Regions from separate parts of the Homo sapiens genome. Here regions 2, 3 and 4 are each linked to region 1. The links come from fine-mapping of genetic effects on gene expression. A gene starts in region 1. Each other region holds a variant in brackets. All regions are shown on one strand. Distances are between the middles of the regions. Region 1 holds the start of PTPN22 (protein tyrosine phosphatase non-receptor type 22). Region 2 overlaps AP4B1 (adaptor related protein complex 4 subunit beta 1). Region 3 has its middle 32 kb from the start of MAGI3. Region 4 overlaps RSBN1 (round spermatid basic protein 1).

Evidence for each region.
Region 2: its variant is fine-mapped to the expression of PTPN22 in whole blood (TOPMed, PIP 0.94).
Region 3: its variant is fine-mapped to the expression of PTPN22 in whole blood (INTERVAL, PIP above 0.99).
Region 4: its variant is fine-mapped to the expression of PTPN22 in whole blood (TOPMed, PIP 0.97).

Annotation. Positions count from the first base shown.
Region 1 is chr1:113,867,533-113,875,712 of GRCh38, forward strand. PTPN22 (protein tyrosine phosphatase non-receptor type 22) reads right to left here and starts at 4,180. Exons shown (of 21, transcript NM_015967.8): 1 at 4,005-4,180. The coding sequence starts at 4,091. All of the region lies in intron 3 of AP4B1-AS1 (AP4B1 antisense RNA 1), which reads left to right. RefSeq lists enhancers at 3,318-3,367, 3,926-4,185.
Region 2 is chr1:113,892,841-113,901,033 of GRCh38, forward strand. AP4B1 (adaptor related protein complex 4 subunit beta 1) reads right to left here. Exons shown (of 10, transcript NM_001253852.3): 5 at 7,064-7,560; 6 at 5,878-5,961; 7 at 5,000-5,103; 8 at 3,418-3,625; 9 at 2,917-3,198; 10 at 1,354-2,652. The coding sequence ends at 2,225. AP4B1-AS1 (AP4B1 antisense RNA 1) reads left to right here. Exons shown (of 5, transcript NR_125965.1): 4 at 5,028-5,149; 5 at 7,032-8,193. Among named protein-coding and RNA genes, the nearest start is that of AP4B1, 7.9 kb to the right of the region's middle. The variant C/G (reference allele first, on the strand shown) is at 4,796.
Region 3 is chr1:113,353,984-113,362,176 of GRCh38, forward strand. No RefSeq gene overlaps it. Among named protein-coding and RNA genes, the nearest start is that of MAGI3, 32 kb to the right of the region's middle. The variant CCT/C (reference allele first, on the strand shown) is at 3,620.
Region 4 is chr1:113,784,972-113,793,164 of GRCh38, forward strand. The region is part of intron 2 of RSBN1 (round spermatid basic protein 1); the gene reads right to left. Among named protein-coding and RNA genes, the nearest start is that of RSBN1, 23 kb to the right of the region's middle. The variant C/T (reference allele first, on the strand shown) is at 3,722.

The sequences.
Region 1 (8,180 bases):
CACAATTATATTAAATATTTAATATAGCAATTAGTTGTTTAATGTCTGCCTCTCTAAGACATATCTATTGCCTTATAACATAAGCTCCACTAAAGCATGGAGCATTGCATTGCATTCCTAGCATCTAGGGCATTACTTTGCACACAATAAGCACTCAATGAATGTTTATATGAATGTATAAAAACCTTAGATGGGTGGTCAGTGGTAGTTTCAACTACAGAAAAGTTACTGAATTTAGTCCTGGCACAGGGAAAAGACATAAGCAGCATGGCACTGGCTTCAGCTGCCATTAACAGGACTGCCACATCCAATTATGAATACAGTCCTCTCACAGTATCTGTGGGGGACTGGTTCCAGGACCACCCCCTTCAATTACCAAAATCTGTGGATGCTCAAGTCCCTCATATAAAATGGCATAGTATTTACACATACTATACATGACCTCTTGTATATTTTAAATCATCTCTACATTACTTATAATACCTAATACAATGTAAATGCTAGATAAATTGTTGTTATGCTTTATATTTTTTATTTTTTGTTGTTGTGTTATTTTTGGTATTTTTTTCAAATATTTTTGATCCATAGTTGGTTGAATCCAAGGATGTAGAACTTGGGGATACAGACAGCCATCTGTATTGTTCTCTGTACAAAGATGTATGGCCAAGAAGGAAGTGGAGACTGAAATCTGAACCATGGACCTGGGGAGAGGGTAAAGGGGTTAGGATGCTCAGGGAATCTACCTGGAAATAGAGATGCCTTTTGATAATTCCCTTAAAGTTACCACCAGTTAAGTGAACAGTGGCCTTGTGTCACAGAATGAGTCCTCAAACCTCGGAAACATAAAATCCTGGGAGAATACATTAAGGGCTTAAGATGGGACACAGAACATGACCAGATGGAAAGCCCTCTGATTTAGTGGCAGTATTTACCTTGTCCAAGCAAGCAGTCTAGCCTCATTCACTACTCCTCTACTCCCCCAAAGCTCTCTATCTGGTGTCTCATCTGAAACCTTTAGATGGAGCTGAGAGGAAGACTCTATTTTTCCACTGGAGGACATGAGTCAGTGAACAGTGAGGTTACACTTAATCACTACCCAAAAACAAGGTCCTTAAAATCAGGAGCTAGAAAAGCAAGGAAGTGATTAATATAAAAGTCAGGATAGTGATTATCCCTTGGCCAGGGTAGGACAGGACAGGGGCAGATGGGTGTAGGGGACCTGATGGGGCATGGGTCTTCGGGGGTCTGACAGTTTCTTGACTTGGGTAGTGGTTGCACTGCTAATGGTTGCTTTATAATTATACTTAAATGTTTTATGTACTTTTCTAAATGTGTATTATATTGCACAATATTAAGCAGCTAAAAAAAACTATAACAAGTTTTTAAGCAGGGAAAAAATGACCAGATTTGGCTGGGCGTGGTGGCTCATGCCTATAATCCTAGTACTTTGGGAGGCTGAGGCGAGTGGATTACCTGGTTGGACAGACCAGCCTGGCCAACATGGTGGAACCTTGTCTCTACTAAAAATACAAAATTAGCCAGGCGTGGTGGCTCATGCCTGTAATCCCAGCTACTTGGGAGGCTGAGGCAGGAAAATCGCTTGAACCAGGGAGGTGGAGGCTGCAGTGAGCCGAGATGGTGTCATTGCATTCCAGCCTGGGTGACAAGAGCAAAACTTTGTCGCCCCCAAAAAAAAGACCAGATTTGTATGATTAAAAGATCACTTGGGTGTTGAACTGAAAATTGACTGAAGGTGGGGCAAGGCTAGAGGCAGAGAAGCCAGTTAGGAGGTAGCTGCTATATTTTGGTGAGAAATTATAATGACTTTAGCTGAGAAAAGGTAAAATATTAGGGATATAGTCTACATTTTTTTTTTTTTGAGACAGAAGTTCGCTCTTGTTGTCCAGGCTGGAGTGCAACAGCTCTATCTCAGTTCACTGCAACCTCTGCCTCCCGAGTTTAAGCGATTCTCCTGTGTCAACCTCTTGAGTAGCTAGGATTACAGGTGCCTGCCACCACGCCCAGCTAATTTTTGTATTTTTAGTAGAAATGGGGTTTCATTATGTTGGCCAGGATGGTCTCAAACTCCTGACCTCAGGTGATCCACCCGCCTCGGCCTCCCAAAGTGCTGGGTTTACAGGTGTGAGCCACTGCCCCCGGCCAGTCTACATTATTTTAAAAAACACAACCAAAATAAAACAGAGGCCGGCACTGCCCCTCAGCTCACTTTTTACATCTATGCCTTGGGTTACCTTGGCTTAGGAATTATAGTCCAGGGGCAGGGACATGTATACACATGTGCTAGAACTTCCTACTTATCTCCTTTCAGGTAACTCTACCAGAGGGGCTCAGACTGATCAGCCAGTGGCAGTGAGAGCACATTTTTCATAGTACCACAAGATTATCCATGTTGAGCTGACATCGGAGTTCCTATCATAATATCTAATCACTCAATAATATCTAATTACTCAAGACTTTCAGAGTGTTTTCACATCTGCTATCCGGTACCAGAGTGTTAGCTCCAGGAGGCAAAGGTTTTGGTTCTTTTTGTTCACCGCTGTATTTTTAGTGCTTAGAACTGAACTTGGTACATACTAAGTGCTCAATAAATGGTACTCAATAAATGACCACATTTAATGATTGTTATTGATATTTAATCATCACAACAATCCTGTGAGGATAGGTAGGACATGTATTATTATCCCCATTTTATAAGTTAGAAAACAGAGAGATTTAAGAACATGTCAAATACTTCATAATTTGGTGAAAAAAAATCATGATTTAATTTCAGGTTTGTACTTCAGTTCCCCTCTTTCCACCCATTTCTTCACAACTGAAGAGCTAAGGTTTAAAATTCTTATATCTCTGAAACGCCAGCTGTAAGCATTCTAAAATACATGATAGGTACTATTAGACACCCTATGTTATCTGATATCTCAGCTTGTAGGGTGAATGAGGCCTACCCAGCTGCCATTGCATCAATAATCACAGTTCTCTCAAAGGAGATTCACTGTTCTTCTGGGTAATCTAATCCACCCAACCTGAAGCTACCTTGTACTCATGTTTCTCTCCTTGACCTACACTTGTCTCTACTCTCCATCCTAGCCATTCCACTTCTCCAAGCAAAAGAAGTTAAGGAAGCCCTGTTATTGAAAAAACACATGTTATAATATATTTTTCATATGAAAAAGAAAAGAAAAATGATGGCCAGACATAGTGGTTCATGCCTGTAATCCCAGCACTTTGGGAGGCAAGATGGGAGGATTGCTTGAAGCCAGGAGTTCGAGACAAGCCTGGGCAAAAAAGCAAGGCTCGTATCTACAAAAAAGAAAAAAACAATTTTTTTTTAAATTAGCCAGGCATGGCGATACACACCTGTGGCCCCAGCTACTCAGGAGGCTGAGGCAAGAGAATCACTTGAGGCCAGGAGTTCAAGGCTACAGTGAGCTGTGGTTGCACTGCTGCACTCCAGCCTGGGTGACAGAGTAAGATTCTGAATCTTAAAAAAACAAACAACAACAACAAAAAAAACTGTGGCAGTGGGTAGTTTTGGTGCTCTTCAAAAACCTTTGTCAACCAAATAGAATCCCAGAGGGGAGGCTAAAAATGTAATATTGCATGAAAAGTTAACATTGGTCTCTTTCTTCTTAATATTAATTAAAATTAGTAATATAAAGCATAAACCACAACTTAGATACCTGGGGAAATCTGGATGTTCAATTAATATTAGTGTTTTTACATCTGGAGTTGTATATGTCTTCTGTAGGATTCCTAACCAAACTCCAAAGAACTAGCAAACAAAATATTAAAACCAGTAATTTTGAGAGAATACCTGAAATACATGCAAACCACTCAGAGAAGTCAAACTTTTTTTTTTCTGTCTTCCCCGCCAAGGTCTCATATTTACTTTATCCCAAGAGCAATTTGGTCTCGGAAAATTGGACCCCCATAGTCAGTTAAATAGTGTATGTAACTACCCTGAGAGGGTCACATACAGGACTCACCAGAAATTCATTGGCAAACTCCTCTTTAGTAATTTTCTTGCTTTGGGCCTCATCCAGGAACTTCTGCAGAATTTCTCTTTGGTCCATGCTGCAGAGCAAGAAAAATAGTCTATAAGTAGGTTGAGGGAGGGCATGTCAAATGTGTGTCATGGCCGAGACACCTCCAAAAAGCCACTGCTGCCGCCTGAGCAGAGCATGCTGAAGGCTGTGGTTTACTGACTTCATCACAAGCCCTAGAGGAAATTAGTACGTAACCACCTTCTGTGGTCACATAACACAGCCATCATCTCACTCCAGGGCCCTAGTGCCTTCCTTCTCAGCAAAGGAACCTGGTTACAATTCAAATTTTTAACAAACAAGAGGCTAACTAGAACGTAAAGTGTGGTCTGCTTAACTGAGATTATTCCATTCCATCACCCATATGCAAAACTCACCTTTCTTCTTGCCTCCCAGAGAAAGAACAGAATTACAGGTCTCCTGAATGAGTTCTGTCTCTCCCCATTTTCCCAGTGAGCACAAGGGCCAAGTTGACACCTTCTGTTTCCTTATGTCCCAAATGAACTCTGCAAAGTTCAGTTAGGCCCAGGAAAGAAGACAGACACTGTTTAGAGTGAGTGACATGTCTTCTACCCGGACTGTTCATCGAAAGGTTTCTTGTCAGTGTGATCAATGAGAAACTTCTGTTCATCACAGAAGGTATTTTTATTCATAACTTTTAAGTCTGCTATATATACCTCAAACTCCCTTTTGAATGAAGCAAAGTCAGATGCTTCTGACAGTCTGTGTCTCTCCCAGGACTGGGGAAGTGCTGACCTCCATTAAGGGAAGTGTTGATTTCAGCACCTCTTCAACCCTCCCAGTAACCTTTGAAGCTTCACTTGGGTTCTGGATATAAAGACTAAGAGTGTTGGTCTATATAGGATCTAGAGCAAGTGGCCCCCACAAGGAGCACCTGACCAGACAGTTAGCTCAATACCCTGCATATGTAATGCTGGTAAACTGTGATGGAACAAAAAGAAAGTAAAATCAACCACCTTGCTGACAACATTGTAACTTTTAGGGCAGAAAGCCTGAAGAACTGTTTCTAAAGAACACATTTCTACTCTGCAACCAATGTCTTAGGAAATAAATTTGTTTCAGGAAGTTATGCTGTGCCTGTGGCATTTTGGCCCTGAAAGGCAGGCTCTTCTAGAAAAACTTTCCACATTTGAGCTTGCATAACCTCTCAATGGGTACAAGTCTACCCAAGTGCCTAATTCAGTGTGAGAACATCCAAAAATCAGTATATCATCTTTATTGAAGGCAGAAGTTCAACAAATGTTAACAAAATTAGTCTTGATCCTGAAGAAAACTGGGAAATGTGTTGTTAGGACTTCCTCTATTTAAGATATTAGCAATCCTTTCTGTTTTGCAACATTATTCAAACTTCCTTCAGGATATCATGATTCTGAACACTGCTTAATCTGAACATTAAAGATACTGCATGCTCTTTACTAAGTACTGCAAAAAAAAAAGAAAGATCATCGAGATATCTTGGTTATAGACAACTTAAAGACAATATTTCAAATTAAGAAACTCAATCCCAGTATACATAAATTAAAATAAACCCTCATTCTTCAGCAATATTTGTTAGGAATAGTATATTTCTTAAATTATCCCCATCTAGAATTAAGAGAGAATTTCTTGCTGCTCTAAGTAACGTGATGTTTACTTTGGCTATTTTAAAACATAAAATATGGGAAATCTTTGATTTATAAAAATACAAAATTTCAAGTTTGTAATAACTAAAACCATGTAAAAGTGTGTACATAGTTAAAGACTAAAAGAAGCAAAAAAGAATCAATTGTGTAAGTTTGCTTTCTAAAATTATCATAATTTTAGAATTATGATAAAGTTTGCTTTCTAAAATTATCATACCGTTTTTAAAATTAGAAATAAACATTTAAAAATCCATTAAGTTGTTCAACAAATTTATTGAGTACCCACTAAATTCTAAACATTGTCTTAGGAGATTGGCATACAACACTGAGAAAGCCAGAATATGGTAAAAACAAAACAAAACAAAACAAAAACATCCTTAGCCAGTTAATAAAGCAACTCAGAACTAAAGATACAGACATGATTACTGATAAAAATTAAAACACTCCTTAGGTAACTTTGGGAAAGAAAATAAAAATAAAAACATTCCAAACTAACTTGCTTAATTGCAGAGTAGCAAAGCATAATCCTAAAAGGAAAATGATTTTCTATGTTTGGACAAAGAAGATAATATAGTTTTATAATTTCTCTGTACCCTTAGAATGTCCTCAATTACACAAAACTAGAACTTTATTAATTTTTATTAATTGATGAGGCAAACCTGCCTAATAAAATTTAAATCTATTTTTCTCAAGCCTATATTTCAGCACAATCTCTTACTAACTTTCTTGTTTCTTCTTAATGAGGGAGAAGACAGAAATAAATAGGAGATAACAAAAAAAATTTTGCTTAGATGCCTCCATAGTCCCTTTCCTCAAAATCTAAGAATCTGTAAATAGTGTCTTGGCAGAACTTCACACTTTTTTAAAAAAGCAAGCAGCAATCTATTCTACTGTAAACCCAAAAGGTATAGAGACATTGTGAAATAACCAAACCCCCAAAACCCACTTAGCTACAAGGCCATTTCCTGAGCAGACCACTCAAGCAAGCAAAAAACAAACTGAAGAAGAAAACAAAAAACTTTAATTATTTTTTTTGTTTTGGGTTTTTTTGTTTGTTTGTTTGTTTTGTTTTGAGACAGGGTCTTGCTATGTTACCCAGACTAGTCTGGAACTCCTGGGCTCAAGTGATCCTTCCACTTCAGACTTCCAAGTAGCTGGAGCTATTATTTTTTTTTTAAAAAAATAAGCTACTACTTAATTTATCACACTTCCTTCTACAGAGCACAATGCTTTTTGATGAAGATTGTGTTGACTCATTTGTATCTTGCGGGAAGATAAAGAGCTGGGGAGGGGAAACAAGACATGCAGTAAAGGTTGGCAAATACCTAAAAGAGTTTCAGAATTTATGATGAATCATTTAAACCAGTCTGGCATAAAACCTAAGTGAACACAATTCCATGCAATAAAAAAAGACTCACAAACATTTTGCCAGAACCATCAAGTAAATTGTGGGAAGTAAATTGTGGATAAGCACCTGAAGAGGAGTGACAAGGCCACATCTCACTGCTGCCTCATGTGGCTGTAGTGCTTGGTCAGAAGGAAGAACACAACAGAGAAGAGTGCTGGTCACCATGTCACCTGTTCCAAGAAGAGGGGAGTATGCTAGTTTAAGGGGAAATATCAGTATCACAGAGGTCAGGAATTAGATTACAATAAACATTAATTGAGGAGAATTTCAGGGAAGACTACAAGGGTAAGATAAACTATTCAATAGGAAAAACATTCAGGATTCTCAGAACATCCTTCTGTCTTTTAGATGAGGGGGAGACATGTTTTACCCTGGAGAAGATACTTACCCAACCTTAGCTTTAGTTTCACTACTCTTGCCTTTCCCTACATTCCAGGGTCATTGATTTGATATGGGATATATATACTGTCTGTGAAACATTCAGTCCTTTGTAAGCATTCTTTTGATCACCAAGGCCTATTGGAAATTTCTCCTCAATGTCTTTTAGATTCAACCTGTCTTTTCCATTCCCACTTAGCCCCATTCCCACTTTCACACCCGGATTCCTATAGCAATAAACTTAGAGTATCTTCCTATCTATATGTTTCCATTCTAGTATCTCCTGTTAACCAAGGCTGGATGAAAGTTCTTAAAACTGCACTTTAATGCTAAAGAATCAGAATAGTTATTGATGATCTACGGGAACAAGTCCAGATTCCTTAGCTTGTCACCAAGCCCCTCCCTGTCAACTATCCCCACCCAACCTATCCAAGCACATCACCTACAGACCTCGTTCGTTCTACTACCACTTTTTTCTACTTCTCACCTTTACCCCTAAGTTTCACCACAATGAAAATAAAACCATAAAGCTCAATTTTTCTTCAAAAATCTTGCCCCTAACTCTGTTTCGCCATGATCTTCCCTTAGTCTGAATCTCTTCAATATAAATCTGTATATTCAGCTATAGAAGTTTTCATTTATTCAATTTCCTTGTCTCCTATAAGTTTATTTAAGAGTTTATTCAAAAGA
Region 2 (8,193 bases), 25 kb after region 1:
GGCTGGGTAACACTTGAAGTCAGGAGTTACCAGCCTGGCCATCATGACGAAATCCCATCTCTACTAAAAATACAAAAATTAGCCAGGCGTGGTGGTGCATGCCTGTAGTCCCAGCTACTTGGGAGGCTGAGGCAGGAGGATGGCTTGAATCTGCAATGTAGAAGTTGCAGTGAGCTGAGATCACACCACTGCACTACAGCCTGGGTGACACAGCAAGACTCCGTCTCAGATTTAAAAAAAAAAAAAAAAAAGGCTATTTGAGAGAAGTGATAGGTGAAAAATTATCTGAAGGTATGTGCTTATCTATATCTAGGTAGTAAAAATCCTTGAATTAAGCTGGATGATAAAGGCTATATACTTGGATCATGTTATCTTAAGTCCTTGAAGAAATGCCTTCATTAAGCACCATGTTATTATTATTATTATTATTATGGAGACAGGGTCTTGCTCTGTAGCCCAGGCTGGAGTTCGGTGGCATGAGCATAGCTTATTGCAGCCTTGACCTCCTAGGCTCAAGCAATGCTCCCACCTCAGCCTCCCAAGTAGCTGGGACTACAAGCACACGCTGCCACACCTGGTTAATGTTTTACTTTTGTAGAGATGGGGATCTCACTACATTGCCCAGGCTGGTCTCAAACTCCTAGCCTCAAGTGATCCACCCACCTTGGTCTCCCAAAGTACTGAGATTAAAGGCGTAAGCCACCATATCTAGCCTACTTTTTTTATGTTCTTTTTTTTTGACAGGGTCTCCTGTCACCCAGGCTGGAGTGCAGTGGTGTGATCACTACTCTCTGTAACCTCAAACTCCTGGGCTCAAGCAATCCTCCTGCCTTAGCCTCTTGAGCAGCTGGGATTTCAGGCATGTGCCACCATGCCTGGCTAAGTCAATTTTTTTACAGACAGGGTCTCACTATGCTGCCCAGGCTGATCTTGAACTCCTGGCATCAAGCAATCCTCCCTCCCTGGCCTCCGAAAGTGCTGGGTTACAGGTGTGAGCAACTGCACCCAGTCTAAGCTCTGTATTAAAGTCATGCTCTCTGCTTTCGTTGAAGAATACTGTTAAGAAAGTCATGTGAAACCCATTACTAACTTCTCATAGGATCTTGCACATATCTTAGTACCACCTATGTGAAACTACATGTACATTTCTTTTAGAAATCAATGTTTCTTCCTCTCTGATGACAATTATAACTGTTTCCCTTAACTCTGACTGCTAAATCACCTATAGAGACAAATCAAGGCTCAACTATATCACCTAATAGGCCCATACAGCCTGAACATTTGTATATTTCCCCATCCCCAACCTAGCTGGTCTTAACTGGTATTTTAATTTTTCCCATTCTGGATTCGCTATTTATATTTTACCATCATTTTATTAGATTTGTTCTTGCCATAAGTTGCTTCAATGTACAAAATGTGGTCAGATAAGAACAGAATAAAAATTGAGGACAAGCAACAAGAAAACAATTACAATACTACTGCTAGAGGTATGCTCTGGCTACTTTGATAGCTTGAGGGAGGCCCCTAATGAAGGCAGTGAGGGTTAAAGGAAACTTCCTGAAGGAGCTTATGAGTGAGCTGAACACTGAAAGATAGACGAGGTGTTAATTCAAGAAGATATGAGGGTGAGAAAATGTTCCAGGCAATAAATAAAAGCAGGTTTAAGTTAACACAGAGGTGAAAGAAGCAGGTGTATAAAGGGAACTGCAATGCAAATGGTTTGCTTCTGCCAGAAAAGAAGTCATTTTGGGAGTGGCAAGACTTGACACCAAAGAGGTACTTTAGATGACATTAAGGACTTTGGAATCTGGCCTAAAAGCATGATTGGAAATATGAGAACAGTTAGGAATTTACTATAATAATCCAGGGAAGAAAAGATGACCCCCACAAATGATGACCCCTATCAGTTTCCACACATCAGCCATCTTTAATTACTAACACAATTCCTAAAATTGATTAGGAAATAATCCAAATCCCATCCTCAACGCATCTCCTTACCAACATTAACCTCTACAACATCATCACTGAAAAATGGGGTCAATTGCCAATAGGAATGAAAGGAATGAATCAATGTTCTTTGGCCAAAAACTTAAGAATCCTGATTTCTAGATTTTCCACTCTCCTTTGTATCTGATATTATCTGGACTTACTGGCAGCTCTAATAGGAAAGACTAAGAAAGTGTAATAGTTATTCATCTTACTCTAGACAAGCAACAAGACTCTGTTATGATTTTATTTCTTCAATTGTTCCAATCACAGTTTCTAATACAGAAATAAAACTATTCAGCGTCTCCGTTCTTGCTTCATTTTGTTTCACAGAGATCTGCATTTCTGAGTTTCCAGGCTCCAATAGCAGTTCTGTTAAGAACAGACAGCCAGTATCATCCTGAGCACTGAGGTATGCTTTCCATGGCCGAGACCCAGCCCTACTCATTGCGATGGTCTGGATGTTCACTACTTGAAGAGCCATCTGGAGGGTGTCAGGATGGAATTCTCCCCGCCAAGGCAACACTTGCTGATGAGCAACTTTAAGGCTAAGCCAAGTTTTCTCAAAATAATCAGCAGTAAGCTGGCGATTGGGGACTAGCATGAGGGCTCCAGAATCAGGGAGTTCTTGTACCCTCTCCTTGTTCTCTTCAGGAATCAAGGGTCCTAAAAGAGACAGAAAACTTGTGTGAAAGATGTTCTTAATCTGTAGGAGCTAAGTTTTTTATCCAAATTCCCAAATGTACACAATGTGACTTTTATTTTTGGACAAATGGCTGAAATAACCAGTGACGAACCTCTTTCTTGCTCACAAATGCTTCAAATTCAGGCAACAGTCTGAGGTTTAGTGCTAAGATACTCTACTTTCCACCAATCATTGAAAAGGTAAAGATTTATCATGACAAGATTTAAGGTAAGGACTGTTTTTACCTGATGCGGCAAAGGATGAAGTTTTAGGAAGCTCTGGGTCACAACGCTCTGCCCCCTGGCATTTAGAGATAGTTGCCCAGTGGGCTTTGCCATACACTGGCACCAGTGTGTTGAAGTCTGAGGCCCAGCTATTCACAGGTCTTTCTGCCGGATCCTCCAAAAGTCCAAGAGTAGGGTCAGATTTAGGGCTACACAGAATCCGCTTAACTTCATCAATGCCAACTAAGAGGAGGCGATAATAGAAGAGACCTCGGTCCCGTACAGCCATATCTTTTTCTTCCTCTGAGGTAAGACAACAGATTGACTTCATTAAAAACAAAACCACTTTCCTCCTACTCTTGTGCCAACCATAATAGGAGAAAAAAATGAAGGAGAGAGGAAAACCTAGGAAGCATTCACATTTTCTTCTCGGGTCCCAGACGTGACTCACCAAACAATGAAAGCTATTAAGAATTTTTACTATGGGTCATGGCAAATACTATTTCCTTCTGAAAAACCCACCTATGCAGTAATACAACAAACGTCCTAGCATGTCCTGGCACTCAGCAGGTCGGGAGAGGAAAAGGCGCAGCAAAGCAGTGAGCAGCTCCATCTTAACAGCTGGAAATGTTTCCGACTTCACATTCTCAACAAAGTCCTCTAACACATAAGGAGCATTAGGAATTCTTTCCCCATGGACACCAAGTAGCCAAATAAGTGCTTGCTTCCCCTAGAGAATAAAGGAATAAGAGCAAGTGCTCAACACTTGACTGTCTAAAACACAGGAGATAATAGACAGCCACTGGTTTTGCTTTTCGCTTAGTGCCAGCAGAAAAGGTGTAATCTTTAGTTTACTTCATTTAATTTACTGATTCCCCGTACTATACTCTCTACAACAAATAGGAATGAAATTCTAATACACAAGAGGAAACTCAAAACTTTCATAGCCTATGTTGGATTAAGCAATAAATAAGGTTTCCTCAGGTTTGGGGCCTTTGGCCCTATTGGGTTTTAGTGTTTCAGTGGAAGCTGCTCAAAGAATTTCTCTAAATTTTTCACAAAAATGGTTACTAACCTAGAGTGCACATCAGAGTCATCTGTGAAGCTTCTTAAAAATGTATCTGTCAGCCGGGCACGGTGGCTTACGTCTGTAATCCCAGCACTTTGGGAGGCCGAGGAGGGTGGATCACCTGAGGTCAGGAGTTCGAGACCAGCCTGGCCAATATGGTGAAACCCGTCTCTATTAAAAATACAAAAATTAGCCAGGCGTGGTGGTGCACACCTGTAGTTCCAGCTACTCGGGAGCCTGAGGCAGGAGAATTGCTTGAAACCAGGAGGCGGAAGTTGCAGTGAGCTAAGATGGCATTACTGCACTCCAGCCTGGGCAACAGAGCTAGACTCTGTTTCAAAAAAAAAAAAAAAGTTATCTGTCTAGGTCCAACACCCCTGAATATTTAAGTCAGTAGACCTGTGATTACGTCCAAATCTTTGTAAAAATTTCACAAATGATTATAATTTTCATTCTAGCTAAAAACTCCATGGTCTAAATCTCTGACTCAAAACTGTTCAAGAGAAGCGGGGCACAGTGGCTTATGCCTGTAATCCTAGCTCTCTGGGATGCTGAGGTGGGTGATCACTTGAGGCTAGGAATTCTAGACCAGCCTAGACAACATAGCAAAACCCTCTCTACTAAAAATACAAAAATTAGCTGGGCGTGGTGGTGCACACCTGTAATCACAGCTACTCTACTCAGGAGGCTGAGGCAAGAGAATCACTTGAGTTTGGGAGGTAGAGGTTGCAGTGGGCCGAGATCACGCCACTGCACTCCAGCCTGGGCAACTCTATCTCAAGCAAAGCAAAACAAAACAAAACAGAACTGTTCAAGAGAACAATGGTATCA[C/G]AGTTTTGTAATAAAACCCGTCGGATAAATCTTGTTTTTATAATTTATATGCCATCTATATCCAAAAGAGAATCTAAGGTGGCAATCAATTCGAAGAGTGCCCACTTCAAACACAGGGTAGAGAGAATAATTAGATTCCATTTCAAAGGGCAGGGTTTCAAGCATTCTCCCCCTACCTAGAAGTAAAGGAGAATTACAGTCTACCTCACTATCTTGAATGTTCTCTTCACAGCCGGGCAGGGCCTGACATACAGCTTCAGTACACTGAGGACACAACCAAACCAGGTCTCGGAAAGTCTGCACCACCACTACAATACAGGCCAGGGTACAAGAGCACAGGATTAGAGCCTCCAGGTAGGCAGGAATCTTAAGAACAGTCATGTATTCAGACTCATGATTCTGGCTGGATTTCTGTAAAATGGGTTTTGGAGGTGTGGTCAATGGTTATCTAAGAAATGTAATGAAATAAGCAATAATTTCTTGAATGCATATTGCTCTTATCAGATTGACATGAGGATAAATGAACTAATGTATGAAAAAGCACTTTGTAAAACATAAAGCTGTATGCAAATGTGGGGTAGTATTGCTGTTGAATGAAACACTAAAGACAGTATAAATAGAACCACCAGGCCTGGGAAAATGATAACACAAGTGAGGTGCCTAGGGTTCAAAATTGAAGAAGACATGCAGGATTGGCTCTTGCAGGAACCTAAGAGTGAGTGCCTTCTTAAATTTTGCATCCTAGGCATCTTGCTTGACTTACCCTTGTCCCAACCCTGGAAGCCACTGCCTATGGCATACTGCCATAAAACAAAAAGAGAAGTAAAGATGGTGAAATATCAAGCAAGGTCATCCTAGTAGCCTTCATTATCTATAGTACAGCCTTATAGATCATGGCAGCCTGAAGACTCAATATCCTATTAGATCTATAGACTTTATGCTTCTCTAACAGCAACAGATGATGATGCAAGGAAAAGTTCAAATCTCTATATTACTCATTCAACAACAAACATGTTTTGAGCAACTACTATAGGCCAGGCACCTGACAAAAAAAACAAAAATCCTAAAAAGGCAGGCATTACCTGTGGTAATGTGCTCTTGTCGAAGACCCAGCAACTCTGTTAAAATCTGAACACATTGATCTGTGTAAGTCCTGGCAATGCCACCTACAAAAGAAGGGAAAGCAGAGAAAACTGCTAAGTGAAATATTAGCACCTCAATCTAAAATCATCTCCCACCAGTGAAAGACAAAAGAAACAGAATTATCTAAAAAAAAAAAAAAGAAAAAAATTCACTCCTTACTTGATGAACTAAGAATATAAGTTTACTATAAAGGGAACTTTGGTAAAAATCATTTTTTCTCACTGACTACTAGAAAACTGAAAGCTCATAGCAAAACAATTCCCCATTAAACAAGGTTGAAAACTTATAGTAACAAAGGTATTTACATGGCAGCCAGATATGAGGTACCCTTTTTGTTGCAGCACACCTGCAATGGAGTATTTTTGTGGGGGACACTTGACAGCAGTCTCCTAAGGATTTCTTGTCTCCTCTTTGCTCCCTCTTCTCTGCCCCTAAAATAACCATGCTTTATTCCAAATATGAGGGTTGCTCCTCCTCCTGTACTTGAAATCCTTCAAAACTTGGCTCAACAGCTGTTTTCAGTTTTTGAGTCACTCCAGCCTTTCAAATTCCAGACAGGGTACTATGAAAAAGTCTGTAAGATTTAGGAATTATTCTGTGTTGGTCTACATTCAGCACAATACATAGCCCATAGCAGAAGCTCAATAAATGACTGGTGGATTAACATAGGACTTTGAGTCAGGAAAGCTGGATTTCAGTCCCATTTCTAAAACTATGTGCCCTTTTGGCAATTTGATAACTGTTTTTGTGCCTGAGTTTCTTCATCTTTAAAATGAAGTTAATGACATTTGTCTACTTTTCCTGACTGTCTCACGATACTGTGGTAAGATGATGTATAGGAAAGCATTTTGGATAGAAGACAACAACAATTTTAAGTATTGTAGTTTGTGTTACCTGTATTCTCCATCCTGGAAGATACAGCAACACCAATCTTGACCAAAAAAAAACAAAAAACAAAAAAAAACTCTCTTCCCCCGTGTTTGTAGTCACTGACCCAATTATTTAGTGCATAGTACTTTGCTTCTGAAGCAAGATTCATGCCCTTTGCTCTCTATGGTTCCTCTAACCACAGTTTTCTTGCTGGCTGGTCTAGGTTCTCAAGAAGGAAAAGGAGCAGACACCTACCTATGGCAAAGATGGCAGCCTGTGCAAAGTCCGCAGACACATCCGTGCAGTACCCTCGAAGCTCCTCTAGCACCTGCTGCACATTCTCATCGTTCACCAGTTCACACAGCACCTCCACTTTCTGTAGTTTGATGTAGTGGGGCTCCGAGTAGGAGCAAAAAAACTTTTTGTAGTGGCTGCTAAAGTGACCTGGTAAACTATGCAAGATCTGGCGTACATGACAAAGAGCAACAAAACAGAGCTCACGGCTCTCTGAAGAACAGGCAGCTAGCAAAGGTCCCTTGACCCGCACAAGGACATCAGTTTGTACGTGGGGAAACATTTTTGCCAAGATCAGAAAAAGTTTGGTAGCTCCCATCACCACACCTGGGCTACTGCTCTTGAGGAAACTATCCAACAGATTGAGAATGTCAAATAGTTCTTCCTCACTGCGGGGTTGGTAGCGTAGCAGAAAGTTCAATACTTCAGCCTGGCCCCATTGGTCCAGTTTTGACATTCTATCCAAAAAACAAAACAAAAGAGCTATTTTAGCAACAAAATTAGGACCATTTCCATGCCACTGCCATATGACCAGGTGGTTGTTCATCATAGCAAAGGGAGAATTCTTAAAAATAGGCTGTGCCATAATTAAGTCACTTTTCATGTACTATTTAAAGTTTACACAAAAAAGGCTTAAAATTCCAAGATGAGTTGTTAATACAAATGCACACTCCTCTAAGACCAAAGACATGATCAGCATACACTGGGTCCAGGTTCCTTACATTTTAAGACACTATAAATGGCTTAGTTTGGGGGACATGACTAGAGAAGGGTAGAACCTATTCCCACAGTATATTTCTATTTCCCTATATCAATAAGGGAAAGTAAGGCAAATAAAAGAAATTCTCTCAGTGGAATGTGAGGGAGTTAATAGTGGTTAACTGGCCGGGCGCAGTGGCTCACGTCTGTAATCCCAGCACTTTGGGAGGCTGAGGCGGGCGGATCACCTGAGGTCAGAAGTTTGGGACCAGCCTGACCAACATGGTGAAACCCTGTCTCTACTAAAAATACAAAATTAGCCGGGCATGGTGGCGCATGCCTATAATCCCAGCTACTCGGGAGGCTGAGGCAGGAGAATTGCTTGAACCCAG
Region 3 (8,193 bases), 510 kb before region 1:
TAATCTCTAGAAGTGTCTGTGTGTATTACTATCATATGGAAAGACACAAACCTTAATCCTTACAATGATTATAGATACTCAGAGTCTAAGAGATGGTTATCTTTACCTTACATGAATTGTCTTTAAAATGATTGCTTATTTTTCTAAGCTGTTTTTAACATCTGATGAAATCTCTGGGTGAATTTTCTTCTGAGACTGAACATGCTACAATGCAAATTGTATACAAGCTAAAAATTAATCTTCATATAGTTGTACTCTGGGGTCACTCAACATTTAAACGCACATTGCCAAGAATACTGTTTGTCTGCAGAATCATAAATGCACAAATGAATTACTCTTACGATGGTCATGTGATTATAAATTTTCTCAAAGGCTTTCAACTTAGTAAATAGCTTGCTACCTTACATGTAAGGACATTTCAGTTTATCATTTTCATTAGAATCTCTAGTGTCATGGTACCTTTTTACATTTTGTTATTTTTAATTAGATTTTTTGTTTTTTCATTTTACTGGCTTTCCTTAAATTTTGCTTAACATTTTATTTGGCATAACTTACATAGCAGGCAACAAGATAAAAATATGTTCTTTTCAATTTAGAGAAATTAAGTAACTATGTTGCAGATCTGTAATTAAGGTCTTGATTAGTTACACTTTCTTAATTTGGTGATTCACATCTCTCTTTGTCCTGATCAAATTATGTCATCATAAAGAAATAGTTGTAGTGGTTAGAAATGCCTGTCAAGGCCAGGCGTGGTGGCTCATGCCTATAGTCCCAGCACTTTGGGAGGCCAAGGCAGGAGGATTGCTTGAACCCAGGAGTTTAAGACCAGCCTGGGCAACGTGGCGCAACCCAGCCTCTAAAAATATAAAAAATTAGCCAGTGTGGCGGTGCGTGCCTGTAGTTCCGGCTATTTGGGAGTGCTGAGGCAGAAGCATTGCTTGAGCCTGGGAGGTTGAGGCTGCATTGAGCCATGATAGTGCCACTGCACTACAGCCTGGGTGACAAAGTGAGACCCTGTCTCAGAAAAGAAAAAAGAAGAAAAAGAAATACGAATGCCTAGCAAGATTATTTTCTTCTAAGATTTTATTTATTTATTTATTTATTTATTATTATTATTTTTTAAGACGAAATCTCAATCTGTTGCCCCCAGGCTGGAGTGCTGTGGTGCAGTCCAGCCTGGTCTCACTGCAGCTTCAACCTCCTAGGCTCAAATGACCCTCCCACTTCTGCCTCCCAAGTAGCTAAAACTTCAGGTGCACACCATCAAGCCCAGTTAATCTTTTTTTTCTCTTTTTGTTTTTTTTTTTGTTTTTGTTTTTGTAGAGACAGGGTCTCGCTATATTGCCCAGGCTGGTCTTGAACTCCTAGCCTCAAGCCATCCTCCCTCCTCAGCCTCCCAAAGTGCTGGGATTACAGGCACAAGCCACTGTACCTGGCCTACTTACTTCTTTTTGTTCAACATTCATTGATACCTTAGGAGAATGGCTAGGTTCTGTGGAAAAAAAGCAATGCAAGGAACTTACTTACTAGTAGAGATGCTCAAATATATACAAAATTGATTATACTATGAAGTAGAAAACATTGACAAAAAAGAGGTACAAATAAGATGTATCAAAAATATAAAGTAATAAGAAGCCACTAAAGGTTTTTTAGCAGGCAAATGACAAGACCAGAGGTGTACTTTAGAAAAATTAATCCTGTAGCACAGTGTTGGGTAGATTATGGTGGTAGAAGAGAAGGCAAGGAGGATGGAAAGAGGAGAGAGGGAAAAGGGGCGAATGAAAAACTATTAATATTAAAGAGGTAATGTGAAGTAGGGTATTGGTAGTAGAAACAGAAAAAAGATCTGGATCCAAGAAATAAGGCTATGGTGAAACTAATAGGTCATGGCTACCAATTGAATATGAGGAATGAGGGATGGGAAAGATTCAAATGAAACACTGATACTTCAAGAAAGGAAATGTGCCACTAATAAAAATGTAGAAGGAGCATTTTCTGTTCTTATTTATTTATATTTCTTTGCAATATTTTTTACAATGTGTTTTATATGCATTGAGAGCTAGCCCACTGCATTAGAAGATTTTTTATGTTTCTCTTATGATTCACTAGTCATAGCAGCCTCTATTCCTTTCTGGAATAAGTTGCAGTATAAATAAATGAATACGCATTCATTATGCTTGATTATATAATTGTGCTTCCCTCTCAGCAAATGTCTCAAGGTAATAATGTAATGGCGTCTGTTCGTAACTAAAATCCAGGTTGTTTTTTTAAGGGATGTTTTTAAGCTATATTGTGTTTGTTATACATTTTATAACATTTGTTATATTTCTTGGCAATAAGTAGTAGCTTTTACAGAAAGGAGCTTTCTCATTTTAATTTGGGATCAGGTAAACTAATAATTATTCTATTTTCCCTTAAATAGGCATTCATGCCATTTTATAGTAAACAAACCATTGTTAATACTTATCCCTTTAGAATAAAATTGCTCTTCATTCTTTGTTAACATGATATAAACTTTCAGTAACAATTATAACAACAACACAACCACAGCTGAACATTTATTATATTTAAGGCATTGTTCTAAGTGCCTTTTACATATAATCCTCATAACTCTTTGAAGTAGGTACTATTAGAATCTAATGTCACAGATGAGACAGAGAAGGCAAGTAACTTGCACAATGTCACACAGCTAGTAACTGTAGGAGCCAGAATTGAACTCATGCAGTGTGGTTCCAGAGCCCATGTGCCTGGCAACTGCGTCCTCAAACACTTCATCCATATGTAAGACAGTTGAGTTAGACCAGCCTTATACTTAAGAGAGTGCATCTCTCTGCTATCTGTCTAAAAATTTGCCTTAAGTAGGGTCTATTTTAATAGAGAAAAGGAAAAACTTTTCATGCCCATTGGCATTCTCAGAAGACTTAATCATCAAGAGTCTGCAAAAATATAATTCCCTTCACACCAAGACATTTGATTGGTAATTTAAAAATACTCACTTCCTGTAGATAGCTGTAGGAAAGAAGAGTTCTTTATTTGTATTTAAGCTGAAAGTAGTAATAGAAAAAAAGGATAATGAATAAAGTTGAGTTGATTTTCAGTCAGTAAAGCCAATCAATTTCAGTCAGTAAAGTCAGATGTCTGTTCATTATAACAGTGAAGTGGGATTCAAGGGAGGGTGTGAGTCCATTGCTGGGAGTGAGGTGCTCATGGGCAAGAAAAGGAAGCTTTATGGAGACTGTGATATTTACGAAGGTTTTTTCAAGATGAGATGTTGACAACTCTCCTCATGGATGCCTATAAGAAACATAAATCTTTTATGTAATTCCAAAATCTGAAAGGACTGAATTATTTCTGAAGATACTGAAGTCTAGAAGTACATTTCATCGGAAACTCATTTGCCAAATGCCTTTATGGAAAATATCTTCATAGATCACATACACTGAAAAGATTACCTAACATATCTCAAAAATGCATCACGTGGATGGGCCCTGAATCATGGAATCATCATCCTTTATGCTGTTTGGTTACCTTGTGCACTTTCATGAGTTTGAACCATGAAACCAAGCAAGCCTTACACACACACACACACACACACACTCACTCACTCTCTCTCTCTCCC[CCT/C]CTGTCTCTCTCACACACACACACACACACTTTATCTTTCTGCATCTTAAGCAGTATTAAGAAATCTAAGATAAAATGATTTTCCCAGAGGAACAGTATAAGATTAACATTTTTAATCCTATTTTTATTTTCAATTTAAAATATCCCCCCATATGAAATTAAATATGTCTGACATGGTGTCCTCCAGTTTGCCAAAAGCTAAATGACTTTAAATGCAAATTATATTTTATTGAAAAACTCACAAGTGTATATACTATAGTTGTCACAAATACACATATTTGTGACAAAAAATAAATTTCCCTGCTTTTTAAATCTTAAAGCAGTATAGGCAGGAGAAAAAAAGTACTGCTTTTGCTATTTCTTGTCTAGAATCAGTCTTATTTTGAGGCTTCTAATACTTTGAAGTTTTATACAAACACTGCACCATTTTGAAAGTAGATTTTCTGGCTGTGCACAGTGGCTAACACCTGTAATCCCAGCACTTTGAGGCTGAGATGGGAGGATCCCTTGAGCTCAGAATTTTAAGACCAGCCTGAGAAACATAATGAGACCTCATGTCAACCAAAATAATAATAAAAATAAAAAATAAATAAATAAATAATAAGCCAGGCTTGCTGGTATATGCCTATAGTCTCAGCTACCTGAGAGGCTGAGGTGGTAGAATTGCTTGAGCCCAGGAGGTCAAGGCTGCAGTGAGCCATGTTTGTGCCACTGCACTCCAGTCTGGGTAACAGAGCAAGACCTTGCCTCGAAACAAAATGCACTCCAGCCTGGATGACAGAGTAAGACCTTGTCTCAACAACAACAACAACAAAAGCCTGGCTGTGGTGGCTCACACCTGTAATCCCAGCACTTTGGGAGGCCAACACGGGTGGATCACCTGAGGTCAGGGGTTTGAGACCAGCCTGGCCAACATGGTGAAACCCCGTCTCTACTAAAAATACAAAAAATAGCCAGGCGTGGTGGCAGGAGCCTGTAATCCGAGCTACTCGGGAAGTTGAGGCAGGAGAATCACTTGAACCTGGGAAGTGGAGGTTGCAGTGAGCCAAGATCGCACCATTGCACTCCAGTTTGGGTGACAACAATGAAACTTCGTCTCAAAAAAAGAAAAAGAAAGAAAGAAAAGAAAAGAGTAGATTTTTCATCTCAAGCTGCTGAAGGATTTTACCCCAAGATAGTATTCTCTAGGTCCCTAAACCTGCCATTCTCCACATTTCTCAAAGAAAGGGGTATGAAGATATGGCATAGTGGAGGCATGTATATTGTATATTTTAGAAATTGCTTCAAAATTGGTGGAATCAAGAATTATATAACCAGTGAAGTGTCTCTTAGAGTCTTGTCCTAGGACACAGTGGATCTCAAAAGCTGGTCCCTGCCTTGCTCAGGAACTTAGAAATGGAAATTCTGACACTCTAGACCTTCTGAATTAGAAACTCTCTTGGAGTAGAGCCCAACAGTCTCTGGTTTATCCACCCTTCTGGCTGATTCTGATAGTGCTAAAGTTTTGGAATCATGCCACTAAAATTTTGAAACTACTAGAGTCACCTGGGAGGTGGTGGGCTTACTGCAGATTAAAGGGCCCTACTGCATACCAAAATCTCTAAGGGTGAAACCCAGAAATCTCTTGTTGGGAGCAAGCCCCACAAAGTCTGGCCATAAACTGGCCCCAAAACTGGCCATAAATAAAATCTCTGCAGCAATGTAACATGTCCATAATGGCCATAACGCCCAAGCTGGAAGGTCGTGGATTTACAGGAATGAGGGCAAGGAACACCTGGCCCGCCCAGGGCGGAAAACCGCTTAAAGGCATTCTTAAGCCACACACAAAAGCATGAGCGATCTGTGTCTTAAGAGTGTGTTCCTGCTGCTGGATTCGGTTTGCCAGTATTTTATTGAGGATTTTTGCATCAATGTTCATCAAGGATATTGGCCTAAAATTCTCTTTTTTTGTTGTGTCTCTGCCTGGCTTTGGTATCAGAATGATGTTGGCCTCATAAAATGAGTTAGGGAGGATTCCCTCTTTTTCTATTGATTGGAATAGTTTCAGAAGGAATGGTACCAGTTCCTCCTTGTACCTCTGGTAGAATTCGGCTGTGAATCCATCTGGTCCTGGACTCTTTTTGGTTGGTAAGCTATTGATTATTGCCACAATTTCAGATCCTGTTATTGGTCTATTCAGAGATTCAACTTCTTCCTGGTTTAGTCTTGGGAGAGTGTATGTGTCCAGGAATTTACCCATTTCTTCTAGATTTTCTAGTTTATTTGCGTAGAGGTGTTTGTAGTATTCCCTGATGGTAGTTTGTATTTCTGTGGGATCGGTGGTGATATCCCCTTTATCATTTTTTATTGCGTCTATTTGATTCTTCTCTCTTTTTTTCTTTATTAGTCTTGCTAGCGGTCTATCAACTTTGTTGATCCTTTCAAAAAACCAGCTCCTGGATTCATTAATTTTTTGAAGGGTTTTTTGTGTCTCTATTTCCTTCAGTTCTGCTCTGATTTTAGTTATTTCTTGCCTTCTGCTAGCTTTTGAATGTGTTTGCTCTTGCTTTTCCAGTTCTTTTAATTGTGATGTTAGGTTGTCAATTTTGGATCTTTCCTGCTTTCTCTTGTGGGCATTTAGTGCTATAAATTTCCCTCTACACACTGCTTTGAATGCGTCCCAGAGATTCTGGTATGTTGTGTCTTTGTTCTCGTTGGTTTCAAAGAACATCTTTATTTCTGTCTTCATTTCGTTATGTACCCAGTAGTCATTCAGGAGCAGGTTGTTCAGTTTCCATGTAGTTGAGCGGTTTTGAGTGAGATTCTTTATCCTGAGTTCTAGTTTGATTGCACTGTGGTCTGAGAGATAGTTTGTTATAATTTCTATTCTTTTACATTTGCTGAGGAGAGCTTTACTTCCCAGTATGTGGTCAATTTTGGAATAGGTGTGAGGTGGTGCTGAAAAAAATGTATATTCTGTTGATTTGGGGTGGAGAGTTCTGTAGATGATCAAGTGGGCTTCATCCCTGGGATGCAAGGCTGGTTCAATATACGCAAATCAATAAATGTAATCCAGCATATAAACAGAGCCAAAGACAAAAACCACATGATTATCTCAATAGATGCAGAAAAAGCCTTTGAAAAAATTCAACAACCCTTCATGCTAAAAACTCTCAATAAATTAGGTATTGATGGGACGTATTTCAAAATAATAAGAGCTATCTATGACAAACCCACAGCCAATATCATACTGAATGGGCAAAAACTGGAAGCATTCCCTTTGAAAACTGGCACAAGACAGGGATGCCCTCTCTCACCACTCCTATTCAACATAGTGTTGGAAGTTCTGGCCAGGGCAATTAGGCAGGAGAAGGAAATAAAGGGTATTCAATTAGGAAAAGAGGAAGTCAAATTGTCCCTGTTTGCAGATGACATGATAGTATATCTAGAAAACCCCATTGTCTCAGCCCAAAATCTCCTTAAGCTGATAAGCAACTTCAGCAAAGTCTCAGGATACAAAATCAATGTACAAAAATCACAAGCATTCTTATACACCAACAACAGACAAACAGAGAGCCAAATCATGAGTGAACTCCCATTCACAATTGCTTCAAAGAGAATAAAATACCTAGGAATCCAACTTACAAGGGATGTGAAGGACCTCTTCAAGGAGAACTACAAACCACTGCTCAAGGAAATAAAAGAGGATACAAACAAATGGAAGAACATTCCATGCTCATGGGTAGGAAGAATCAATATCGTGAAAATGGCCATACTGCCCAAGGTAATTTACAGATTCAATGCCATCCCCATCAAGCTATCAATGACTTTCTTCACAGAATTGGAAAAAACTACTTTAAAGTTCATATGGAACCAAAAAAGAGCCCGCATCACCAAGTCAATCCTAAGCCAAAAGAACAAAGCTGGAGGCATCACACTACCTGACTTCAAACTATACTACAAGGCTACAGTAACCAAAACAGCATGGTACTGGTACCAAAACAGAGATATAGATCAATGGAACAGAACAGAGCCCTCAGAAATAATGCCACATATCTACAACTATCTGATCTTTGACAAACCTGAGAAAAACAAGCAATGGGGAAAGGATTCCCTATTTAATAAATGGTGCTGGGAAAACTGGCTAGCCATATGTAGAAAGCTGAAACTGGATCCCTTCCTTACACCTTATACAAAAATCAATTCAAGATGGATTAAAGACTCAAACGTTAGACCTAAAACCATAAAAACCCTAGAAGAAAACCTAGGCATTACCATTCAGGACATAGGCACGGGCAAGGACTTCATGTCTAAAACACCAAAAGCAATGGCAACAAAAGACAAAATTGACAAATGGGATCTAATTAAACTAAAGAGCTTCTGCACAGCAAAAGAAACTACCATCAGAGTGAACAGGCAACCTACAAAATGGGAGAAAATTTTCGCAACCTACTCATCTGACAAAGGGCTAATATCCAGAATCTACAATGAACTCCAACAAATTTACAAGAAAAAAACAAACAACCCCATCAAAAAGTGGGCAAAGGACATGAACAGACACTTCTCAAAAGAAGACATTTATGCAGCCAAAAA
Region 4 (8,193 bases), 83 kb before region 1:
AAATTAACTTTAGCTTACTGTAATTTTTATAAACTTTATGAGTTTTTTAATTCTTTGACTCTTGTAATAACACATAGTTTAAAACACATTGTACAGCTATACAAAAATACTTTCTTTACGTCCTTATTCTGTAAGGTATTTTCTACTTAAAAACTTTTTTTTTTACTTTTTTTAAACCTTTTTTGTTAAAAACAAAGATACAAATGCACACATTGGCCTATGCCTACAACAGGGTTGGAATGATTAATATCACTGTCTTTCATCTCCACATCTTGTCCTGCTGAAAAGTCTTCAGGGGCAATAACACTCACGGAGCTATCATCTGCTATGATAACAAAGCCTTCTTCTGTAATATCTCCTGAAAGATCTGTCTGAGGGTGTTTTACAGTTAACTTTTTTTTAATAAGTAGAAGTATGTTCTAAAATAATGATAAAAGGTATAGTAAATATAGTAAGTGATAGGAATTTTTCAGCTCCATTATAATCTTATGGAGTCAGCGTTACATATGCAGTCTGTCATTGACTGAAACGTCACTACATAGCACATAAACATATATTTTATGCCACTGTACTCAACACAGGTATAGCAAACCAGACCTATTCCTGGCCACTTGAAGCTTACAGTCTAGTAAGGAGAGGCAGACACTAATCTAAATAAACATTTAATTATAAACTTTGATCTTCAGAATGTAAGATGTATGACACTATGAAAAAGAACATGGGATCCTGATCCGGGGAATAAAGTATTCCTTGAAGTAACATTGAGCTCAAATCTGAAGAACAAGTTCAGAGGGAAACAAAATCTCTTAAGCATTGCCCTTTCCAAGATCTAAAAGAAAGCTAATGATAATAAACACAGAAAGCAAAAGAGAAAAATAAAGATGAGACTGGAAAAATCAGCTGTAGCTGGATTATGGAGAGCCTAGAAGATCACATCAAGGATTCTGGAAAGCCACTAAAGGATCTGAAAAGAAGGAAAGTTACCCAATTTGCCTTTGGTTTTTTGTTTGTTTAGTTTTCTCAGAGGGGCACAAAAAGTAAAGAGATCAGCTAGGAGTATTCTATAATATGCCAAATAAGAAATGTTAGGCTAAGCTAATAACTTGATTTTAAATAGGGACTTCTTTTTAAAAGAAAAACAAAGAGATCTGAAAATTATACAGGAGATAAAATTGTCAAGATGTGGACAAAGATTGGATATGATAGATAAGAGAAAGAAGTATGAAAGATGACTACCAGGTTCTGTACTTTGGAACCTGAAAGAGCAACTACTCTCTCTTCTGGAGGAGGATCAGGTTTCACTGTTTTGGACATGATGAGCCAGAAGTATGTGATAGGTTGAAAAACGGCTTCCAAAGAACCTAACCCCTAGAACCTAATCCCCAGAATCTGTGAATGTTACCTTATGGCAAAATGGACTCTGCAGATGTGAATAAATTAAGGATCCTGAGATGGGGAGAGTCTCCTGGATTATCCAGGTGGGCTTAAATGTAATAACACGTGTCTTTTAAAGACTGAGGCAAAGAGATATTTGAGAAGGCGATGTGATGATAGAAGCATAGCCTGGGGTAATATACTTTGAAGATGGAGGAAGGGGCCACAAGCTAGGAAATGTAAGACACAAGAAGCTAAAAAAGGCAAAAACTTGATTTTTTTCCCTCAGAGCCTTCAGAACTGTAAGAAACTAAATTTGCGTTGTTTTAAGCCATTGTTTGGGGGCCAGGTACTGTGGCACACACCTGTAATCCCAGCACTTTGGGAGGCCAAGGCAGGCGGATCACTTGAGTCCAGGAGTTCAAGACCAGCCTGGGCAACATGGTGAAACCCTATCTCTACTAAAAAAATACAAAAAATTAGCCGGGCGTGGTGGTGAGTGCCTGTAGTCTATTTCTAAATTTTCTATCTTGCTGAACAGAGCTCATAAACTAATTACACTGATTTAATAATTAAATCTTTAGAATATATTGGTACCAGGTAAGGCACTCCTCCATCGTTACTTTTTCTTTTCTGGCTGTTCTTGCCTACTTATTTTTGCATATAAACTTCAATATCTGCTTGGTTGTCTCAAAAAACAACTATTTCTATTTTATTGGGATGGTGTTCAATTTATAACTTAGGAGAAATTGTCATTCTGATATTGATTCTTCTTCCCCAGGAACACAGTAATATATGTTTCCATTTAAGTCCTCTTTTGTGTGATCATGTTTCAACACTAATAGGAAGAATCTGATAAAGATGAAAAGGTGAAGAGGACTGCTGTTTAAACATGGTAGACTGGATGTATGATTTTTTTCTATTCCTTGTCAAAATCCCACTCAAGTGAGAATAAAATATCAAGGCTAAAATCCCAGATAGTCAAAGAGAACAGAAGTAAAAACTACAGATACAAGCTATCAAAATGTTTTTGGAAGGTGAAAAATGTACAGGGAAATTTGCAAACTGAGAACTCTGGCTAACTTTTATAGAAGGCAAGAACAAAGCATGCAACTAAAAACAAAAAAGGTGGGTTTAAAATCTGCTTGAGTCAGTGAGACCCTTCCACTTACATTCTACCTTCCTATCCCATGCTCCTTTTTCCTCACCTTATTTGTGGTAAAAGTGAACTAAATGACTACAGACACAAGGATACAAGGCACAAGCAAGGGAGAGAACCATTACACTGGAAGCAGGGAATTAAGCAAAATCCCAGTTATTTAACAATGCAATCGCCTACCTCCTTCCAAGAATTCTAGCAGACAGGTGTGTAACCTACTCCATCCCCTGACAAAAATGTGGTAGATTTTTAGCTGTAGAAACTAAAGGCCCAAGAAACAATATCTTTAAACACTAATATTTAGAGCTTTTCTCACAATATGACCACATTCCCTATCCAGTCTTCAAATGACAAATCCCACCCACGTGTTCACTGAGTTTCTAATGTTTTATAACGACTCATGTTTCAATATGAACAGATCACCATGTTTGATGAAAACATAACCAGAAGACTAAAATAAAAATAAAAAAGAACTTGAACAACTTAAGAGTATAAAAGAAAACTTAAAAACAAGTATAATTAGTATCAGAGAGATGAAAAAAGGTATTGTATCCATGAAACAATAGGAAGTTATTAAAAAAGGGACAGAGAACAAGAACAAGCTCTCAAACTGAAAACATTACAGCTGACATTAATCAACATTAAGAAGCTAGTTAAATCTACCCCCAGAAAGCAGGAAAAAAGACAATGAAAAATATAATAGGAAAGATAAGAAAATTGAGGTTGAATCGGGAGGCCTAATATACAATTAATAAAAGTTTCAGAAAAAAACGATAACTGAGAAAGAAAATTAACAAGTAATACAAGAAAAAACTCCATAAAGGATGGATTTCCACATAAAAAAGGGTGGTGGGGGGTAGGGTTCAACTGCACTGATGATGTTTTATTTCTTGGGCCAGAGTGATTGTTATTATTCTTTATATCTGCGTCTGAAATATTTCATAGTAATTTTTTTTAAAGAAAAATGATCCATCTCAAGGCACATTATCCTTGGTACTCAGACATTCTGTAGTAGAAATTCTGAAAGCTTCCAGAGAGAAAAAAGCAGAACAGCTAAAAAAAATCAGGAATCATTATGGCATTGGATTTCTCAACAGCAACACTGTAAGTTTAAAGGCACTGAAGCAATGCCTTTATAAAGCTAAGAAAAATGACCCATCAATCAAATGTTACAGTTAAAGAAAAATT[C/T]TTCAGATGTGAGAATTGAGCTACTGAATTCAGGCAAGAGTCATGGAATGCCAGACAGGAGAAAGGACAAATAGAAACCCCAGGATACATGCGTGGATAAAAAGACCTATCAAAATAGGAAGATCCCTTGGCCAGGAGTTTGACATCAACCTGGAAAACACAGGAAGACCCTCTACCTTGCCCCCACCCCGACCCAAAAAAAGACATTTACACAAATGCTTACTGTAACACCATAATATTATAAAACTGTAAACAACCTCAATGTCCAAGAATAGGAGAATAAATAGTGAGTGTGATATTGTGCAATATGTATCTGGTCTTCATCCCTATTTCCTGAGGTAGGGCTCCTAAACTCCTTGTTATCTCCAAATAGCTCTATTTTTGTATGCTAATATTGACTAACAGCTTTAGGGCGGGGCTGGTCACCTGAAAAATAAAGGTACAATTAGAGGGTTGGACGGTCAGCCCTACCCCCAACCTCCAGGGAGGGGTGCTAAAGGTCAAGCTGACCACCAACGGCCACTGGCTTAATCAATCAAGCCTACATAATGAAGGCTTCATAAAAACTGAAGAGGTTCTGAGAGCATCTGGATAGCTGAACATGTGGAAGCAGACAGGAAGATCAACAGGAACTCATACATTTGCTGGGAGGGTGGCATACCCCAACTCTACGGGGAAAGAAGCTCCTGTGCTCGGGACCCTTCCAGACCATGCCCTGTGTATCTCTTCATATGGCTGTTTATTTGCACCCTTTAACATATCCATCACACTAAACCCATAAACATAAGTATTTCCCTGAGTTCTCTGAGCTACTCTAGCAAATCCACTGAACTCAAAGAGGGGATCGTGGGAACCCCAACTTGAAGCCAGTTGGTCAGAAGTTCCAGAGGCCTGGACTTGTGACTGGTGGGAAGGAGAGGCCAGTCCTGGGGACTGAGCCCTCTATCTGGGATCCAAAACTGACTCTGGGTAGTGTCGGAATTGAATTGGATGACACCCAGCTGGTGTCTGCTGAAGAACTGATTGCTTGCTTGTTGTGGGGGAGAAATCTCCCACATTTGGGCAAAGAAGTCTTCTGTGTTGATTGCTGTTGTTTGAGAGCAGAGGAAAAGTAAAGTGTTCAAAAACAGTGATACAGCTGCCCAACAAAATACCAAATATAATGGTTAAAATTAATGTAGAGTTAGATGTATCAAAATAATCTTCAAAAACAATGTTGAACAAAAATAACCTGCAGAATGATACACACAATACACTGTAGTTTTAAAATACAAAGGTACAAGTATTGTTTTTATGTTCATTTGGTATTAGTAAAATGTTAAAAGATAAAACGACATGATAAGCCACAAATTCAGAATAAAGATTTACTTCTAGGGAGAAAGGAAAAGTTTATTTAGAGAAAAAAAAAGCGGGGGAAAGACACGAAGCAGAAATTCGCTTAATATATTTTATACTTTTAGTTACGTGGGGAGTGGGAATGGAGAAGGGAAAGGTTGGAGGGGTAGTAGCGGGTAACTGACATCAAAGATCCTAACCTAATGGGTATAGAGTTTCTGTTTGGTATGAGGAAAAAGTTCTGGAAACGGTAGTGGTAATAGAACAATATATATACCCAATGCCACAGAATTATACACTTTAAAATGGTTAAAATGGTAAATTTTGTGTATATTTGACAACAGTTTTTTAAAAACCTTAGCAGGCTAAGGGATGGTATTCATAACACAAGTAGACAAATTAGCCTGACAAATTAGCCTTTGAGGAGGAGATAGAATATCTTCTCTACTGTAACAGGAGAGAATGAGGAAAAGATGTATACAGATAAAGTTTAAATAGTATTTATGAAGAACAGGTAAACAAGCTAAACAAAGAAAAGAAGTAGGCTTCCCAGGCAATGTTGACAACCCAATGGGAAGCATTATAAAATGTCATGAAGAGACAAAGTCCCCAGTGATGGCCAATCAAAACATGATTTTTTAAAATTTGCACTTTGTAGAGGTCAGATAAGATTATCTCTTAGTTTATGATGCTCTGAAATTCTAAAAAGATGCTATCTACAGGTCAAATGAAAGGAACTAGAGTAATGGTAGATGGTATATGGTTTAAAACAGTGTTTCTTAAACTTGCCTGATCATAGGAATCAAGTCGGTCAAGGTACTTATTTCATGCCTCACTCCAGACCTCATGAACCAAAATTTCCAGAAGAGGAACCTGAGAGTCTAATGTATATTTGAACTAGCAACCCCAAATTATTCTTAGGATCTGGCAAGTTTGGGAAACTCTGGCCTGGAAATAGCAACTGAAAACAAAGAACAAGTTGAATTCTACAGCTTTCCGGAGTTTATGTACTGGAGCACAGTGGAGGAACAAACAGAATTGGGAGGACTGGAGGGAGGTAAGTACGAGACCAAAGAACAGAAAAAACTAAAGCTGCCATGGAAGCAGGAGACATAACGCCAACAGGAAAAACACAGTCTTTGGTAAAATCAGAAGGCAAAGTGGGGAGGGGAGAAGGATGTGGCATCAAAGAGAAATATGCCTATTAAAAAAAATAATAGTTTTGCATAAAATTTATTCTCTTTATAATATCTATAAAATGTTAAACAATTATCTTTGAATATATATACTGCTGTCAATACATATGTAGTGTTTAAATTAGAAACTCAACTTCACAGTTATCCTGTATGAATTTCTGAATTAAGTAAGCTCAACTGTGTCCCCAATACATAGAGCTTCTACAAAGGACAATTATAAATCTGTTAATAACTCAGGAGAACACCAAGCTAAAAAAGCACTATGTGGAAAACCCTGTGTATGGGGGTTGAGAGCGGGTGTGGATTATTCCACAGAACTCACGTTTCAGGAAGAAGCCTATTCAAGCTGACTTTTTAAAACACAGAAAGGAAAAAATTAGCCAGCGATCTTCCTAACCTTGTGCCTTGTGAATAGAAAGGCATTCCTACTTTAAAATATATAGTGAAAAAACAGTGTGACTGGGTCAAAGTGAGTACTTAAAATAAGAGGAAAAAAAAAAGAATCAAGCCTACCATTTTTATTTATGCCATTTTATTTTATAAAACCTGCTACTTAAAATGTTTATTTCTCCTTTTCTATAACACACTAATAATGCATACAGTTCCTTAAGGGTTTCTGAGCTATTTCCCAAGCTATATACTACTCTACTAGTTCTATTCTTATTAGTATTACCAATTCATTATAAAATGTTAATCAATCAAAGATCAGAGTGCATATAACAAGCCCATATAAGGCCTTGTCCCAACACACAACGAGGGAATAACATTTTTTGTTTTTCTCTGGAACCGTAGACACTAAAATTATACACGCCAATGCTACAGAACATTATCATTTTATAGAGTAATAAAAGTAATATAAGAAATAAAACTACCTAAAGTTAAAAAGCTTTGATTCTCAGTGAAACCTCAAAATTATATATGAAAATTTTTGAAAAAGATACTTAAAACATGCAGATTTGCCAATCTTCCCTACCCCCAGCAAACACATAACACACACTCCTCTCCATGTACATCCTTCAATTACTTAGTTGCCAGAAGATCTCAGAGGTGATATTGAAAACAATTCCCTTTTAACTTCACTGTATTTTTAGTGTTTGTTATTATTTGCGCTTGCAATTTATGTACAGATTTTGAGACCTATATGGCCTTGGTGGTCCATTTACTAGCAACATCAGCATCACCAGAAAATGCAGACTATAAGCAAAGCTAGTGCTCACACCTGTAATCCGAACATGCTAGGAGGCCAAAGCAGGAGAATCCGTTGAGACCAGGTGCTCAAGACTAGCCTAGACGACATAGTGAGACTCTGGCTCTATAAAAAAATTTTTAAATTAGCCAATTGTAATAGTACACACCCGTAGTCCTAGCTACTCTAGAGGCTGAGGCACTGGAAATAGCACCTGAAAGCGAAGAACAAGTTGAGTTCCACCACTTCCTGAAGTTTATGTACTGGGGTACAGTGGAGTAAGAAACAGTAGAAAGACTACTAGAGCCTAGGAGTTCAAGGCCTCAGTGAGCCATGATCACACTTCATGATCACACTTCAGCCTGGGCCACAGAGCGAGACCTCATCAAAGAAAGGAGAAAGAAAGGAAGGGAAGGGAGGGGAAGGGGAAGGGAGGAAGGAAGGAAACTCAACTTTATAAAGTTATCCTGTATCAACTGCTAAGAGTTAAGTAATCAAACAAGGATCAGCTTACTGTTTCAATGGACATATAAATTTTTCTGCTCTGGTATTAGAACATTTGAGTTTTCTAGAATGTTAAAAGAAAACCCTATATGTGGATCCTAGCTTTAGCCACCACAATAATTTAAAAATATAAAAATAACAGAAGTTTTCATTTTTCTTGCACAAAATCTACATTTTACTTTCTCCTGCTTAGAGGAGCTGAGTTCTAAAGCTTCTCAAAGTTTAATGTGCATATGAATCACCTTTTAAAA